Linked DNA regions of Homo sapiens: region 1 is linked to region 2. Evidence: fine-mapped expression QTL. A gene starts in region 2. The other region holds a variant in brackets. All regions are shown on one strand. Distances are from middle to middle.

Region 1 (4,349 bases), 55 kb after region 2:
CAGCCTCCCGAGTAGCTGGGATTATAGGCACCAACCACCATACCTGGCTAATGTTTTGTAGTTTTGGTAGAGACAGGGTTTTGCCTTGTTGGCCAGGCTGGTCTCAAACTCCTGACCTCAGGTGATCCACCTCCCTCAGCCTCCCAAAGTGCTGGGATTACAGGCGTGAGCCACTGTGCCGAGCCCATGTTGGATTCTTGATGAAATTTCACTTGAAAGCAGGATTGTGATCCTAAAAGAACATCTGAAGGTACCTGGCCAGGCACTTCCAGAAGAGGCCTGTGGATAGCTGGGCCCGAGGTCAGGTCAGGACCAGTGACGGTGCTAGGGATGCTGAACCAGGCAAGAGAGCGCTGAGGCCTATAGGGCGCCTATCCTGAATCTCCAGGGAGGTTGCTGACTTTCCCTGATTATCCCAGGAAAGAACTATCTCAAATATAGATATAAAACTCTTTCTTTACACGGCACTTTGCACACATAGATGTTTTAACAACTTCAGCCATCCAAGGGCAGCCTGGGGAGGTGATTGTTCAAGTCAACCCTGTGGGGTTGGGGGAGTAGACAAGTAACATCCAGTGCCCCTGTCCCTTCTAAGAGTCCCAGATGGGAGGTGTCTGGAAATGTTTAGAAACCACAAAATGGGCCAGGCGCAGTGGCTCACGCCTATAATTCCAGCACCTTGGGAGGTCAAGGTGGGCAGATCACCTGAGGTCAGGAATTCGAGACCAGCCTGGCCAACATGGAGAAACCCCCGTCTCTACTAAAACTACAAAAATTAGCCAGGCGTGGTAGTGCATGCCTGCAATCCCAGCTACTCGGGAGGCTGAGGCAGTAGAACTGCTTGAATCGGGGAGGCAGAGGCTGCAGTGAGCTGAGATCATGCCACTGCACTCCAGCCTGGGTGACAGAACGAGACTCTGTCTCAAAAAAAAACAAAACAACAACAACAAAAAACCCCACGAAAATAAGGCTGGGTGCAGTGGCTCACGCGTATAATCCCAGCATTTTGGGAGGCCGAGGCGGGTGATCACCTGAGGTCAGGAGTTCAAGACCAGCCTGGCCAACATGGGGAAACCCCATCTCTATTAAAAAATACAAAAATTACCCAGGCATGGTGGTGCCTGCCTGTAATCCCAGCTACTCGGGAGGCTGAGGTGGGAGAGTTGCTTAAACCTGGGAGGTGGAGGTTGCAGTGAGCCGAGATCACGACACTTCACTTCAGCCTGGGCAACAGAGCAAGACTCTGTCAAAAAAAAAAATAAAAATCCACCAAAATATGATCATGCAGATATATGCAAATTGTATACAAAACACAAACAAATGTAGGCAGGGCCTGCCCTAACCATCACAAGTCTCAGCCAGGCTTGGGTAGATGACAGAGCAGGGTTCCAGTGAGGAAGGTTAGCAGAAATAGGTGTCAAAGCTGAGTGGCCTGACTGGAATCCAGGTCCTGAGATCTCAAATAGCCCAGAGGCCTCAGGCTGAAGAACCCCGTCAAACCTCACTGTCCCCCACAAACTATCTTTGGGCAGAAATCTGCCACAACCAAGGCTGCAACCTGTTCCAATCATCTAAGGCTCTGTAACAAACAACCCTAAACCTTTTTTTTTTCTTTGAGACGGAGTCTTTCTCTGTCACCCAGGCTGTAGTGCAATGGCATGATTTCTGCTCATTGCAACCTCTGCCTCCCGGGTTCAAGCAATTCTTGTGCCTCAGCCTCCCGAGTAACTGGGATTACAGGCCCACACCACCACACCAGGCTAATTTTTTGTATTTTTAGTAGAGATGCGCTTTTGCCATGTTGCCCAGGCTGGTCTGGAACTTCTGAGCTCAGATAATCTGCCTGCCTCGGCCTTCCAAAATGCTGGGATTACAGGCGTAAGACATCACGCCTGGCAATTTTTTTTTTTTTTTTTTGAGACCAAGTCTCACCCTGTCACCCAGGTTGGAGTGCAGTGGCGTGATCTCCACTCACTGCAACCTCCCCCTCCCAGGTTCAAGCGATTCTCCTGCCTCAGCCTTCTGAGTAGCTGGGATTATAAGCACCACCATGCCCAGATAATTTTTTGTATTTTTAGTAGAGACGGGGTCTCACTGTTTTAGCCAGGATGGTCTCGATCTCCTGACCTCGTGATCCACCTGCCTCGGCCTCCCAAGGTGCTGGGATTACAGGTATGAGCCACCATGCCCGGCCTTTTTTTTTTTTTTTTTTTTTTTTTTTTAAGAGACAGGGTCTCACTGTGTTGCCCAGGCTGGAGTGCCGTCAAACCTTGGTGGTTTCACATCACATTTATTTGGCTTACAAATATGCAGTCTGGGCAGGGCTCAGGGGCAGCTGTCTCTGCTCCACTCTGCATCAGCGTGGGCAGCTTGAAGCCTGGGGGCTGGGATCCCCTGAAGGCTCCCTCCCTCCCGCGTCTGGTGGCTGATGCTGGCTGTGAGCCCAGCACCTCCACATGGCCTCTCCGTGTGGCCTGGGCTTCCTCACAGCATAGTGGCTGGGTTCCAA[A/G]GACAAGCGTCCTGAGAGAGAGAGCCAGGTGGAAACTGCAACATCATTTCTACGCCGGCCCAAGTGACACAGCATCACTTCTGCTATAGTCAGCTCTTTAGAACAAGTCGCTAAGGCAAGCCACATTCAGGGAATTCAAGGGGAATTAAAGTCTTCTTTTCAATGGAGAGTCAAAGAATGTATGGACTGTTTTAAAATGACCACAGGGGCCGGGTGCAGTGGCTCACCCGCCGGGGAGAATTACTTGAGCCCAGGAGGTGAAAGTAGCAGTGAGCCGAGATCATGCCACTGCACTCCAGCTTGGACTATAGAGTGAGACTCCATCTCAAATAAATAGATAAATAAATAAATAAAATGACCACAGGGCCACTCCGGAGGGACAGGTGGGGAACAAATATGAGCCAGGAGGCAGGGAGGGGAGGAAAGCTTTACCCCATGGCCCTGGGACTGTGCATGAGGCTGGTGGGGACACAGCTGGGGACGGCAGGAGACAGAGGGTGCCCCGAACTCCTATGGGGACACTGGGGCTGGACACAGGGAATGAGTGAGTGGGGGCAGCTAAGGCTGGGGGCCTGCCTTAAATTCTGGGTTAAGGCTTGAGTCAGGGAGGGGAACAGCTAAACCCATGGTCCTCTCTCAAAGAGGTATTAGAGGGCTGGGCACAGTGGCTCACTGTGTAATCCCAGCACTTTGGGAGGCCAAGGCAGGAAGACAGCTTGAGGCCAGGAATTCGAGACCAGCTGGACGACATGGCAAAATCGTCTCCACACAAAATTTAAAAATTAGCCAGGCATGGTGACACATGCCTGTAATCCCAGCTACTCAGGAGGCTGAGGTGTGAGGATCGCTTGAGCCTGGGAGGTTGAGGCTATAGTGAGCCAAGATCGTGCCATTGCACTCCAGTTTGGGTGACAGAGGGAGAACCTGTCTTAAAAAAAAAGGTACGAGGGGACTTGGGGACTGATCTGAGGGCTTTGTTGCTCCCCTGAGCCCCCCTGGAGCTACCTTGGAACGGAGAGGGAGCAGGGAGAAGAAGGGGCTGAGAGGAGGCCGAGGAGGAGCCTGGCTGGCAGAGAAGGGAAGGGCTCCTTGGACTCAAGAGGGATGGACACTGAGTTCCCACAAACGTGGATGGCCCCTTGGTCACCGTGCACCACGTGCCACCACCACAAGGCAGGGTTGGCCCTGGCTATTACTCCAGAATAGCCACCCTCTGACCAGGCTCTGCTCCCCACAGCTTCTCCTCGTCATGGTGCCTCTTCCTGCAGATGTCTCTCTCGCTCTCTGGAGGGGCTTCCTTCCCCGAGGCCCAGGATGCCCTATGCTGCATTTTGTCTCATTGCCTCAAAAGCTGGCTCCCCATTATGTGGACTTGTGCTGCCAGCACTTTCTTCATAACCACTGAAGGAATCAGAGTGTCTAACTGGGAGTACTGGGGACACTGTCACAAAGCTACCAAGAAAGCATACTTTGGTTCAATCCCGGCTGCTATAGTAGTGTCTTGGGTCAAGAATTGGAGAGTTTTGTGCCTGGAAGCTTGAGGTCATCTCTCCCGTGGCCAGCAAGTCCCCAGTTATTGGGCTGAGGCTGGGGTGAGGAGAACCAGAGCCCCAGCAGGATCAGAGAACAGTGAGGTGTCTCCTTCCATGCCTAGCTGGGGTGTCACCTTATATGGGGGACCTTCTCCAACTCAGCTGGTGGCTATGCCTTCAGCCCTTTGCCACCTGGGAGCTAGTACAGAGCTCAGAGCCAGTGCCCTGCTATTGAGAGCAACGAGCTGTCACTGTTCCCTGTCTTCTAGTGAGAAGCATGGCACCCTCTGGAGCTAAGAAGGTGGTGG
Region 2 (4,345 bases):
TTAATGCAAATGTGCACACAGTCTCACACACAAAACTCCACACTCACACCCCACACACATCTTGGCATCACAGTTGGCAGCTGCTGTCTGCTAAGATCTTTACAGAGCCCGGAACATGCTTTCTATTGGAGGGAATCAAGAGCTAGAGGCTGCTTTGCTCAGGACCACCCCCAAAGTGGTGGGCCAGACCCAGAGTTAATTGACAGATCAGACAGAGAGATACTGCACATTTTGCACTCGGCAGAATAGCCATTATTTGCATATCACTCTCAGACCAAGGGTTGTGATAAAGAAGAATTAAACACTTGTCAAAATGAATTTAAAATGACAGCAATTCAAGAGACCAATTTGACCTCTTCAGAGTCCAGGACAAGCCAAGAAGGGGTTGTTGAGAATTCAAGCCCTGCAGGAGGGAGTTCCAGGATTTTAGGCCCAGGGAGGGCCCTTCCCCTCCCTTTCCTAAGGCCAGTAGACCACCACTCCCACCCTTTCTCACAATGAAATCCAATAGGGCTTTGGCACATTGGAGTCCTCCACCTAGAATTTTTCCATTGCTTCCCGCTGTTCACATGCCTCATGTCCTGCTTCTCAGGCTCATCTTCCAGTAGCTGCCCTAGAGTGAACAGTCCTGAGCTATGCCAACCTCATCATTAGTAAACCTGTCCATCTACAGGCACTCTGATTTCTGGAGGCCTGTACTTCCTTACTTATCCGTATCAAAGTTAGTTTTTTGTTTGTTTGTTTGTTTCGAGACGGAGTCTTGCTCTGTCGCCCAGGCTGGAGTGCAATGGTGCAATCTCAGCTCACTGCAACGTTTGCCTCCCGGGTTCAAGCTATTTTCCTGCCTCAGCCTCCCGAGTAGCTGGGATTACAGGCGCCTGCCACCACGCCCGGCTAATTTTTTTGTATTTTTAGTAGAGATGGTGTTTCATCACATTGGTCAGGCTGGTCTCGAACTCCTGACATCAGGTAATCCACCCGCCTCAGCTTCCCAAAGTGCTGGGATTACAGGCGTGAGCCACCGTTAGTTTCGTACATGGTCCCAAAGTTCCAGAGTTGGTATCAAAAGAAAGACTTAGTTTTTCCTCTGCCATCCCAGTCCAGTGCCAAAGGAGCAAATAGCTACATTAGGCCAACTTTTATTATTTATTTATTTATTGAGACAGGGTCTGTGTTGCCCAGGCTGGAATACAGTGGGACTCCAGGCATGCACCGCCATGCTTGGCTAATGTTTGTATTTTTTGTAGAGACAGGTTTTCACCATGTTGCCCAGGCTGGTTTTGAACTCCTGGGTTCAAGTGATCTGCCCACCTCGGCCTCCCAAAGTGCTGGGATTACAGGTGTGAGCCACTAAGCCTAGCCTGCCAGCTTTAATTCTCTAGCTCCTAGAACTTAGTAGCTGCTCAATAATTTTGATGGACTAGTCCATCATGCTGGACTCAACAGAAGACCATTTAATAGAGAGTGGCTGAGATTCAAGATCTCTGAGGGCTAGTATGGGTATGTCTCTGCTAAAAGACATGCTTATCTTCTGTAACATTCTCACGTGGGACCTCTGTTGTCTCCTTATATGTTCTCTGACATGAACGATTGAGGGCCTTCTTTGTGGCACAGAAACGTTACTGGGAATTTTAACTTTCTATGTGCTTTTCCAGTTACCAGGTCATTTGTCAGGACCTCTGCGGTTTAAAGGTCTCTAGGGATGAACAGGAGAGATAAGATTATTTTCATCTTTCAGATGAGCTCAGTGAGAGTGACTGGGCTAGGCAGCAGGCAGAACCCAGGTCGGAAGCCAGGCCCCTTTAGAGCTCTCATTGTCCTGCTGCTGGGTCTGCTCTCTCCAGGCAATCCTCCCCAGCGGAGCGCCAGGACTCCTCGGTCCAGAGAAGCCAAGCTTGCAGCTACAGGATCTATCCTTTGAGTGGAAGGACCAGAAATCCATGGAAAACTGAATCTTTGACAACTTTACGCAGCTTTTTAGAGAATTATCTCTAAAATATGGACTTGGAGGAGGGCGCAGCAGAAAGAGTGGGTCAGAGCAAATCCCGCAGCTGTGTGTCTTTCCGCAGCCCGGACCCACTCCCCAGTCCGCTGGTGTCCACTTCCTCAGCCCCCCAGGTCCCCGGCTGGCCCGCGGGGAGGGGATACCCGGCTGCAGCCCGGGACGGCGCCGGCCGCTCCAGCCACAGTTCAAAGCGCAGGGGGCGCGTCCGCCGCGCAGCCGGGAATGTCCGGCCGCTTAAAGCGCTCGCCGGCTCTTTTGTTCCCCAGACCGGGCCTCCGGGGAGAGGGGGCTGGGGGAGGGGACCGGGAGCAGAGAGGAGGGGGGCGGCGGGCTGGGGAGGAGGGCGGGGCGGCCGCGAGCGGTGCGAGTGTGGAGCGCGCACCCCGGGCGAGGCTGACAGATCGCCCGGGTGGGTGCAAGATGGCGCAAGCGGCGCTCCCCCTGCGCCCCCCGCGCTGCTGAGCAGGCATGCGGCCCCAGTCCCCCACCGCCTGGGCTCGGCCCCGGCCGGAGCCCCAGCCCCGGCCCCGGCGCCGGCCCCGCGGGACGCTGTGAGCCGCGAGAGGCCCGGGAGCCGCGCGTCGCCGAGCCGAGCTGACCGAGAGCCCCATGGCTGTGCAGCGCGCCGCGTCTCCGCGCCGCCCGCCCGCCCCGCTCTGGCCCCGGCTCCTGCTGCCGCTGCTGTTGCTGCTGCTGCCCGCGCCGAGCGAGGGTGAGTGAAAGCGCCCCGGACCGGGCGGTTGCGGACGGAGCCAGGGGAAGGGCGAGCAGGGAGGGAGCGGGCGCGAGGGGCGGACCCGGGGAGAGCGGCGCGGACCTGAGGGCGGACCCCGCGCGGGGGGGACCCTGCGGATCCGGACGGGGAGAGGGTACCAAGGCCGGACTGCTGGGGGCCCTAGGGGCGTGTTGAGGACGGAACCCCCCGGAGGAAGACTGGGGCAGGACCCGGAGCCCAGACTGAGGAGCAAGGAGTGCAGCGAAGCGGGAGCAAGCGGGGCGGGCTGGCGTGGAGACCGAGGGAAACGAGCCAGGGGAGACCGCAAGGCTAAGCGCTGACCGAGGCGGACGAGCTGGGGTGCTGGGTGCCCGGCCGTGGACATAGCCCGAGGCAGCCAAGACAGGGGACAGCAGCCTGGGGAGCGGAGACCGGGACTCTGACGGCTGCACTGGGCGGAGATGGCACGACCTGCATTTGGAGCTGGTACTGGGCTGAGGAGTGCGCGGGAGAGACAGGAGAAGACGAGGGAGATTCCTGGAGGGCGGCGCGTGGCTAGGGAGCGACCCGGGACAGAGCCCGTGAGCCAAGAAGGAGAGGAGAAGCCACCGAAAGCGAGAGCGAGCGAGCCGCGGGGATGCTCACGTGCCCCTGCCCTTCCCCGAAGTGTGCACACGCGGAGACCTTGCCCTGGCTCTCGCGGTCCGCCGGTTCTGCTGCCTGGAGCTCGGCTCTGCTGCCTGGAGCTCGGTCACCACCACTCTGTTCCCTTTAGTGGCTGCAATGGTCCCATCTCCCGGGAGGAGAGTGCAAATCTAGTCCCTTAACCCTCCCACCTCAAGTTCCCCACAGACACTCATCTGGGCTATTCTCTCTCCACTCCTCTCCCAAGAAGTAGAAGCTCGCGTCCGCATCAAGGAAAAACTTTATTCCCGACAGCTATACCAGGGTTGGATTCGGGGCTAAGACGGGTGAACTCACGACATGGGGAGGATGCGCAGGGGTTTGAATAAGTGCGATCCTAAAAAGTCTTAAAACATTACATCTTCCTGGGCCGGGGACGGGGGGAGGGGGGCGCGGGGGGCGCTGGGCGGGGAATGCCTATAACCCCAACGCCCCTCCTTTCTCCCCACCCATTTCCCCATCTCCCTCAGCCAGGGAGGGCCCTAGTCTGCTGGGGAGGGGCCAGCTCCAGGATCGCTAGTTATCTGGAAATGTGAGGAGGGGTCTGTGACTGCCATTTCAGACCAGGTGGGTTCATTCCTCCTCGAGTGGAGTTGTAACTGGTCTGGTAAGTTGTTTGCTGGAGAAGTTGGTGACTTGGCATCATGCCTGGGATTGGAGTGCTTGTCCCTCCAGCCGGGCTTCTGATTCTCTGATTGGCCTTAACCCCATCTATTCTTTGGCCTCCTTCTTTTCCTGCTCATTTCTCTTCTGCAGGAGCAGAGAGGTTGGCTGGAAGTAAAGGTTCTAGGAGCACCCTCTTCCTTGGTTTTGGGAAACCATAGTTGGTGTTTGCTACTCTTCATCTCTCCCTATGACAAAGGCAAAAGGACCAACACCCAGAGTGCCAGAGGAGAGGGGCAATGGGGCCACAACCTAGTCTGTACCCCGGGTACTGGGAC

Direction of the effects. Positions count from the first base shown, and alleles are read on the strand shown. Sizes are in standard deviations (SD) of each study's normalised expression.
In carriers of allele A in region 1, the expression in cerebellum of the gene that starts at base 2,401 in region 2 tends to be lower than with G alone (moderate effect, 0.47 SD a copy in GTEx).

The links. PIP is the estimated chance that this variant, and not a neighbour inherited with it, causes the effect.
Region 1: its variant is fine-mapped to the expression of IGDCC3 in cerebellum (GTEx, PIP above 0.99). The same link has a PIP of 0.9 or more in cerebellar hemisphere.

Annotation. Positions count from the first base shown.
Region 1 is chr15:65,321,379-65,325,727 of GRCh38, reverse strand. No RefSeq gene overlaps it. Among named protein-coding and RNA genes, the nearest start is that of RNU5B-1, 19 kb to the right of the region's middle. The variant A/G (reference allele first, on the strand shown) is at 2,510.
Region 2 is chr15:65,376,058-65,380,402 of GRCh38, reverse strand. It overlaps IGDCC3 (immunoglobulin superfamily DCC subclass member 3), which reads left to right and starts at 2,401. Exons shown (of 14, transcript NM_004884.4): 1 at 2,401-2,717. The coding sequence starts at 2,615.